Linked DNA regions of Homo sapiens: region 1 is linked to region 2. Evidence: fine-mapped expression QTL. A gene starts in region 2. The other region holds a variant in brackets. All regions are shown on one strand. Distances are from middle to middle. Region 1 overlaps AIFM1 (apoptosis inducing factor mitochondria associated 1). Region 2 holds the start of RAB33A (RAB33A, member RAS oncogene family).

What was found. PIP is the estimated chance that this variant, and not a neighbour inherited with it, causes the effect.
Region 1: its variant is the best candidate, but not a certain one, in a credible set for the expression of RAB33A in monocytes after LPS (Fairfax 2014, PIP 0.68).

What each region holds. Positions count from the first base shown.
Region 1 is chrX:130,144,353-130,148,745 of GRCh38, reverse strand. It overlaps AIFM1 (apoptosis inducing factor mitochondria associated 1), which reads left to right. Exons shown (of 16, transcript NM_004208.4): 4 at 870-994; 5 at 1,123-1,253; 6 at 3,177-3,267. It also overlaps a transcript of RAB33A not described here. Among named protein-coding and RNA genes, the nearest start is that of AIFM1, 19 kb to the left of the region's middle. RefSeq lists an enhancer at 1,259-2,458. The variant CAT/T (reference allele first, on the strand shown) is at 2,293.
Region 2 is chrX:130,169,809-130,174,201 of GRCh38, reverse strand. It overlaps RAB33A (RAB33A, member RAS oncogene family), which reads right to left and starts at 2,240. Exons shown (of 2, transcript NM_004794.3): 1 at 1,882-2,240. The coding sequence starts at 2,139. RefSeq lists enhancers at 1,703-2,657, 3,467-3,516 and silencers at 2,777-2,856, 3,027-3,086.

The sequences.
Region 1 (4,393 bases), 25 kb after region 2:
TTCTCCCGCCTCAGCCTCTGGAGTAGCTAGGATTACAGGTGTGTGCCACCATGCCTGGCTAATTTTGTATGTTTAGTAGAGACAGGGTTTCACCATGTTGGCCAGGCTGGTCTCAAACCCCTGACCTCAGGTGATCCGCCTGCTTCGGCCTCCCAAAGTGCTGGGATTACAGGTGGGAGCCACCACGCCCAGCCGAAAGCTGTTTTTTAAATGAGGAAATTCTTCTAGTCTGTTTTGTTCCCCTTTTGAGTCTTTGCAGTTTCGAGTTGCTAAAGGTATATTTGCTTTCCTAAAGCACATACCCTAGCCATCACTTCCATTTCACATGATTCACTTCAATTTTCAGAGAGGACTGTTTTAATCCTTTAATAAGCCCCACAACTCTGGGTGGGCAATTTGTTCTGCTTTTTTCAAAAGCACCCCCTTATTCTTGAACATTGTATGATAATCCCCAATTGACCTCCTGGATTTTCTCCCTTTGTTGCTAACGGAAGGTGAAACTGAGCCTGATATTTTCCTGGTGATCACTAGGAAATTGATGGGAAGGGCAAAAGCCTACTGATGTATACTTTCTAAATGTTTTAGAAGTAACTAAATATTTAAGCTATGTCCTAGTACCAGTTCAGACCTGATGAATGAATGACATTGGTGAAATCATTCTCCTATTTTTCACTTATGAAATGAAAGGGATACTTGCTTTTCCTCTCCCATCAGGATGCTGTGAAGATTGTTAAGATTAGCGTAGGTCATATGTTTTGCTAGCTTTATGTGGAGGATTGAGACAAGTGCAAGGTGATTTTTTTTTAACAGTGGCAAAGAATCATCTGAGACTTCAAGAAGATTCATCCAGTCTGTTCTGTTGCTTTCAGCTTCAGAAGGAGAGGAAGTTCCTCAAGACAAGGCGCCAAGTCATGTTCCTTTCCTGCTAATTGGTGGAGGCACAGCTGCTTTTGCTGCAGCCAGATCCATCCGGGCTCGGGATCCTGGGGCCAGGGTAAGGTGCATGTTTTTTTGCTTGGCACAGAGGGTACAGTCTGCAAGCATTTAGCTAATGTGAATGCTTTGACATTTGCCCCTTAAATGACTTGGCTCTGATAAGCGTCATGATTTTTATGTCTGAAGGTACTGATTGTATCTGAAGATCCTGAGCTGCCGTACATGCGACCTCCTCTTTCAAAAGAACTGTGGTTTTCAGATGACCCAAATGTCACAAAGACACTGCGATTCAAACAGTGGAATGGAAAAGAGAGAAGGTGTGTTTGCTTATGTAAAATGAGCCTATCAACTTCAGCTAAGCACAGAGAATAGGTTAGGATTTTGCCACTGACTGTGTACAGTAATAGGAGGGATGGCTTGGCTGTCCACTAGAGTCTACTGTGGTCCACACTTGGTACAGCTTAGAGATAACAGTCTACAAAGGGCAAGAGTCCTGGATTCTGTTACCAGATCTACCAACAGTTGATGGTGTAATGTTGGCCTCTGAAATACTAATGCTCCTATTTCTGGAACCTTTATGTTAAGCTTCTTTAGGTGAAGATCAACTTGGCCTGTATTGTCACTTCTTTTTTTATTTTTATTTTTTGAGATGGAGTCTTGCTGCTCTGTCACCAGGCTGGAGTGCAGTGGCGCAATCTCAGCTCACTGCAACCTCCACCTCCCGGGTTCAAGCAATTCCCCTGCCTCAGCTTCTCAAGTAGCTGGGATTACAAGCACGTACCACCACACCCGGCTAATTTTTTGTATTTTATAGTAGAGATGGGGTTTTATCACATTGGCCAAGATGGTCTCGATCTCCTGACCTCATGATCCGCCTTCCTCGGCCTCCCAAATTGCTGGGATTACAGGCGTGAGCCACTGCCCCCAGCCATCACTTCTTTATACTTGCCTAGACATGTCCTACAAGAGCAGAAGAAAAGAAACTTTTTAACGGCACTCTCTTTGACAGCCTAGCAGGCATTTAGAATTTCAGGAGTAGAGTAGGAAGGCTGTAAGGAAGAGCCTGTGTTAGAATTTTTGCACGACAGACTTGGAGATACAGGTCCAGAAGCTTTTTCCTTTTGATGGACAACTTAGATCTCAATTCTAGTACCATGTTCTTTGGGTTCCAATTTTTTTTCTCATTAGTGACCCCTTTGATACCTGACCAAATTTTACAAACTTACCCTTTTCCCTCACCCCCACTAGTTCCATTTTCAAACAGGATGTATACTTTCAATTAAGTTAGTGGCTAACTTTATATGTATACATATGCATACACACACACACACACACACACACACACACACACACACA[CAT/T]ATTTTGAGAGACAGGGTCTGGCTCTGTCACCCATGCTGGAGTGCAGTGGCCGAATCATAGCTCACTGCAGCCTCAAACTCCTGGGCTCAAGTGATCCTCCCACCTCAGCCTCCCGAGTAGCTAGGACTACAGGTGCGTACCACCACGTGCCTTTTATTAATTAAAAAAATTTTTTTCTAGAGACGAGATGTTGCTATGTTGCCCAATCTGGTCTCAAACTCCTGGCCTCAAGTGATCCTCCCAACTTGGGCTCCCAAAGCACTGGGGTTATAGACCTGAGCCACTGCACTCAGCCAATATTAATATATTAACTAATTAATATTAATATATCATAGTTGATAACTGCTTGAGGCAGAGTCTTCTCAGGAGCTATAATTAGTTGTTCCATTGAAGAGCACCATTCTGGACAACCCATTTGGGTGGATATGTGAATACCAGCTCTTTGGGTGCTCCACTTGTTCTTACTTTGAAATGAACCTAAATCTAGAGCAGGATCCTCAGCCTCAGCACTATTGACATTTGGAGCAGGATAACGCTTTGCTGGGGGTGGGGAGCTGTCCAGTGCATCATAGGATGTTTAGCAGCATCCCTGGCCATTACCCACTGGATATGAGTAGCATCCCTACCCAAGTTATTACAACCCAGATTGTCTCTGGACACTGGCAAACATCCCCTGGGAGCAAAATTGCCCCAAGTTGAGAACCACTGATCTGGATACCTGTATGTAAGCAAGTCATGACCATGATTTAATAGACTTGGAGACTTACTTTGGAAAACGTCCCTTAAAGTTTCTGATAATGGAAACAGTTTTATTAAAGCTACGGGGGAAGCTGATAACAGTTCCACATGCTTATAATATTCTCCCTCTCTTCTCCATACAGCATATATTTCCAGCCACCTTCTTTCTATGTCTCTGCTCAGGACCTGCCTCATATTGAGAATGGTGGTGTGGCTGTCCTCACTGGGAAGAAGGTGAGCTAGTAGACCGCTTCTTTTGTCAGGCTCTACGTACTTGCCCACCAGCCAGTATGGTGATGTGTGTTTCCATTACCATTTATGTCTGTCCTGCCATTGTAGTTCATCAAAGAAGGATCGAGCTGCTTTAGGTTTAATAATGCTGAGTGTGTCTTTCTGGGGAAAGCACTAGTATCAAAGCCTAGGTTAGCATGCTGACTCAACTTGACCCTAAAAGCTGTTATCTCTCCTATTTGCTCTTCTGCCCTTCCTCATCCTTCCTGTTTTCCCACACTAACTTCTCTCTGGGATTATCGATGAGAAAAGATTGACAAATATGTATTACTCATAGTAAAATAATTTGGGCATAACTCAGCACGGAATATATTGTTAGACTTTAAAAGGTGAGTGTCTGAGTAATAAGGTCAGTTATTAGCAGGTATTTGTGGAGTCCCAGGATGGTTTTGTTATATTTTATTGTTGTTAATGGCAGGTACTAGAGTGTGTGTGTAAACTAATGGCAGTGTTCCAATAGGGACGCATTCTCTGAAGGAGCAAAGCCCAGAGTAGATGAGATACACAGCATAAGTGGAAGGATTGTCCTTCGTTAGGAACATACTCACTTCTCCTGTAAGGGGACATTAGACAGAGAAGATGGATATAGGTTTGTTGATAAGCCGGTAATGAGACATTTAGTGTCCCCTATGTGTAAACAACATTCAGGCCCTGCCCTCTAGGGGCTAACTGTATTAGGCAGAAACATAAATACATAATCATAACACATAGGTGTGTAGTAAGAGAGATCTGCGCAGTATGTTGTGGGAAATACTGGGAAGGGTGCCCAGTAGAGTGATGACATCAGGAAAGGCTTTCTGGAGGAGAAGGTCTTACAGAATGGGCAATCTTATGGAATGAAGAGGCATTCACCAGACTAGAGAAGACTGAAGAGCATCCAAGTAAAAAAGAACAGCATAAGCAAAAGCACAAGGGCACAAAAAAGCATGTTTGGTGCCAGGAAATAGAAGCAGCTCGATACTGATAGAGCAGTTAGGTACAAGTTAGGAAGTGGCAAGAGATGAACCTGAGAAGTTATGCAAGGGGCCTGATTGTGGAGGGCTTTGCGTGAAAGAGCTTTTTCTGCACT
Region 2 (4,393 bases):
GGCTCTGCCCTCTGGGAAAAAGTCTGGAATCTTTGCCAGAGACTGTAAAGTCCAGTTTGGCTAAGTACTGGGGTGTTAGAAGAGAAGGAATAGTTTAAAAATTCCTTCAAGGCCACTGGGTGGTGACTCTTCCACTCGTGTTCATCTGTCATCCCTCACTTTCTAGCTTCTTCCTCCCTCCTTCTTTAGATTCCCAAACACTTCATTTTTTCCATCTAAATTTCAGATGGACTTATTTCCCACCTTTTAAATCCAGGGAACTCTTTGGCTCACTGTAGCACTTGATTTTAAGCAAATGGGAGCATTAGGTTTTTGAGGTTTAAGAGCCCATCTGTAAAGATATTTCTACTTTGGATTACAAAGTCATGTTTTAGAAATTCTAGAATCTTATAGCCTTACATTAAAGAAGCTAGACACACTAGAGGAAGTCTTAACCAAGCAAATGTCAACAGCCCCAGGAAAGGACAGAGACAGATACCGCCTTTGACTTTAAAAGGAAATGTAGCACTTCCCTTCCAAAATGCAAGGGGCAAAAAAGATCACGATTTCAAAATAATGTTCTATCTTCCTACCCTGGGGCTCTCCCTTATCAGTACTGAGCTGTCCATCTTCCTGACATCTAGTGAGTTGGCCTAGTTTCTGAAGCCATTTTTAGAACACGTTCATTTTAATAATCAAGGAGTCAGGAGTCTCGCACAGTTTCAAGTGTTTCATCAGTTTCATCAGTTACTCAGCCCTTCTCTCCACGTCACTCAGAGGAGGGGCCTTGTGGTCACTTTGGCAGTTTGACCAGCAAGAAGGAGGCTTACTGTCACCCCTGACTCTGTCTAAGGTCCAACCATACGCTCAAGGAAAGGCCAGCTGTGAGCCTAGAGGAGTTGTCTTCAGTGATCCCAGTGCCTTTATAGAGGCCCCCCTCTGCTCCCCATGACACAAGAAGTTGCCCTTGTTATGTCCTCCCTCCCGCCATCCCCTGCACATTGACATATTCCTGTCATATCAGGTTTCTACCTTTTCTGAATTAAAGGTGAGCACAAATGGTCAGACAAGAATATTTGCACTTAGCCTATTACATAAACTCATGGAGGGGGAGGATTGAACATTCCCCTGGCCCTCGGTTAAGTCACTGCATTTTTACAAAGACCTGAAGACAATACCAACAGAATGAATAAGGAGCAGTTCATGTATTAGATGCCCCAGACAAGTAAAGAAGATATCATTCCAGGGGGGCTGTTACAAAAAAACAAGTTTTGTCTATTACGAAGGGCTGGACCCTGCCTCAATTTCTTTAAAAGGGCTCATGGCTTTCTGCCAGAACCACCCCACTCCACCGCCATCTCAACTCAGCCCTAATTTTTTAACTATAAACTGCAATTTAAAATAAAGCAGCTTTTTCATTCTCCATGGATTTCCATCATTTCCTTCCCTCTAACGCCTTGAGGCTTAGCCAAAGTGGGGTTTTGCAGCCTATCGGCACCCAAGCAGTAGAAGAGACATCAGGATGTGTAAAGTGCTTTGGGATCCATCCCAGAGACTAGGACCCACAGATGCCTCCTGCCTCCCTCTGCCCACAGGTGCCGCTGCTCGGGGTAGGGGTCATGGATGGGAATCCAACATGCTTTTCCTGGCAGGACCTGTCAGGCAGGGGCTAAGGGTAAGAATGCAACCCCATTCTCAACCGCCCTAAAAAACTGAGTGAAGTGGGGACGGGGCCCCGCTGAGAGAGGTGAAAAGGGGTGAGGAGGAGCCGAGGGTCCTCGGCTCAGCAAGAGGCGAAACCGCCACGCGCTGGACGCTGGACGACGACAACCGCTAGAGCTATGCCTCGGGCGAGGTCCCCTCCCGGGTCCCACCCTTCCTGGACCTGACCCCCTGGATCACCTTGATCTTCTCGCCCTCGATTTCCACGGTCTTCTCCCTGAAGTCCACGCCGATGGTGGCTTCAGTCTTGTCTGGGAAGGTACCCCCGCAGAAGCGGAAGGTCAGGCAGGTCTTGCCCACGTTGGAGTCCCCAATCACGATTATTTTGAAGATGCGAATCTGCACGTACTGGTCCAGCGACGAGTCGAGCTCCAGGGACGCCAGGCCAGCGGCCGAGGCGGGCTGCAGGCTCCCATGGCCCAGGATGGGCTGCGCCATCTCCCCCGGACCGAACCGGGGCCCCAACCCCCCTTGAGGGCTCCACACAAAGAGAACGTCCACGTTCGTGCGCTCGAGGCGAGCGAGCTCTGTGCGTGTGTGTGTGCGCGCGTGTGTGTGTGTCCGCCCGTGTGTGCGTGCGCCGGCACCGTGTGCGCGCGCGCGCGTGAAGGGGGTGCCTCTCACTCCGGGCCCCCCTCCTCCTCCTCCAGCGCACCCTCCTTGCAGCTCGGAGGCACCAACACAAAAGCCAGGGAGAGGAGGAGAGAGGGAGGAGAGTGGACGAGCCGCGAGCCTTCTGCCTGTGTGCGCCCTCGGACCGGATGCTCTGGCGAAGGACCCTACCGCGCTGCTCCAGCCGCCGCCGCGCCTCGGCCCACACCCTCCCCTGCCTGCATTCCCGGGACGGACCCGAGGGAAGAAGCCTCAGGAGGAAAGAGACGGGGTGGGGACAGCGGCACACGCCACCCCGGGATAGACTTCTTTCTCCTTGCCCCCGTTTATGTTATAGGTTTCGGGCTCCCCACCCCCACTGGCTCGAGCGCACGGGGTCAGCGGGCAGGGAGCACAGCTGGGGAGGACAAAGAGCTGCACCTTAAGACATCACTGGATCACTTCGGCCTCCCTGGAGCAACGCAACTCTGCGGGGATGGGGTGGGGGCGGAGGCACCTCTTTCACCTCGGGAGCAGCGGGCAGCTGAGCCGCGCCTTCCCGGTCCCCGCTACCCCGTCCCCTCTACCCCCACCCTCTACCCGACCCGCGCCTTGGGATAAAGGGATGCTCTGTCTTAATGAGTGAGCAGGTGCACTCGCGGGCCCCAGGCAGCCTGGGAGGCCGCTGCCAAGACACGCAGTGGGTTGTCCGGGGCCTGTACAGCTGAGAGGAGGGAGCCAGCGGGCACGCGTGTGCGTGTGTAGGGGGTGTAACTGTTTCTGTTACAGACTTGCCAGATGTAGGGGGGCGCGTACCAGGCGCCAACATCCCCTTATCACACCACGCGCACCCATCCTCTGAATGTTCAGGAGAGCGGCTCCTATTGGCTGCCGCAGTCGGTTGTGTTTGGCTGGCCAATGGGGAAGGCCCGCCGCGGGAGAGGGCCACACAGAGGCTAGGAGAAGGGGGGGAAGCTAGTGGTGGCAGTTCCAGCAAAAGGGGACTTTGTTTACGGGGCTAGCCATTACTGGCCCAGGTGGAGGATCTTGGGACAATGGCATAAGCTCCACAGTGCCTTCCATTCCCAAGCCCTCCATATAACCATAAGTCCCTCCAGAACGCTGGAGTTTCAGAGGGAGTTGGGAATCCCTAGGAGGGTTCACCTCCCCCTGCAGCTGAATGTAGAACAAAGTGGTTGGGTCTAATTTGCCAGAAGCCTAGATTATGCTTGGAAGATGATAAATGAACACAACCTCCTTACAGTATTAGGGGGCTGCTGCCCAAAGCTTACTAATCATCACACACATCTTGGTCAAGACCAGTATTCCTTCTCCCTAAAGTCATTCGCGGGTTCAGAATTTGTTTGAAATCGACTTTACTGGGGGTACAATTTACATACGATAAAGTGCACCCATTTGTTTCTTTTAAGACTTTACCTCTCCCCCTACATATTTCATAAGCTAAGGTAACACTGACACATGTCACTAGCACTGACTCGTGAGTTATTGCTAATGCCATCAAGGTCAGGGATTCAAACAGCACAGTTGAGCTGCCATCTTATTTGGGAGGTTGAGCTGCAGGAAGAGACAAACATGACCAAATCCATTTCTGCTGAGAGAAAAACAATTCAGTGCATCAGTGATATACCTGAAAGCAAATTGGAATGTGACTACTCAAGGACGTCCAAGTTACTCAGAATGGCATCTTCCAGTTAATAAGTTTATTAGCTGAGCTAGCAGATATATTTACAGCTAACCCTTTTATCATATATGTGGGTCGCCCATTTCTAAAACCCTACATTATACTACTCAGCATTAAAACTACCCAGATAAGGATTTCCTCTTAGTTGGCTAATCCAAAATCATCCTTATGAATACCAATTTTCATTGTATTATGTATCAATCATCATTGTACAGTATTTTTGGTTTTGATTAGTCTGATGCCTAGTTTGCTGGATCGTTCCCCTCTGTATTGGAAGTTAATGCCCCTGATGATCTTTATCTACAGAATAGCTTTAAGGTGGAGAGGGGTAACTATTAATTAGGTACATCCTGTACACAAAGTAGAAAGGGGCTTTGCCCTTTGCCAATTCACAGCTAG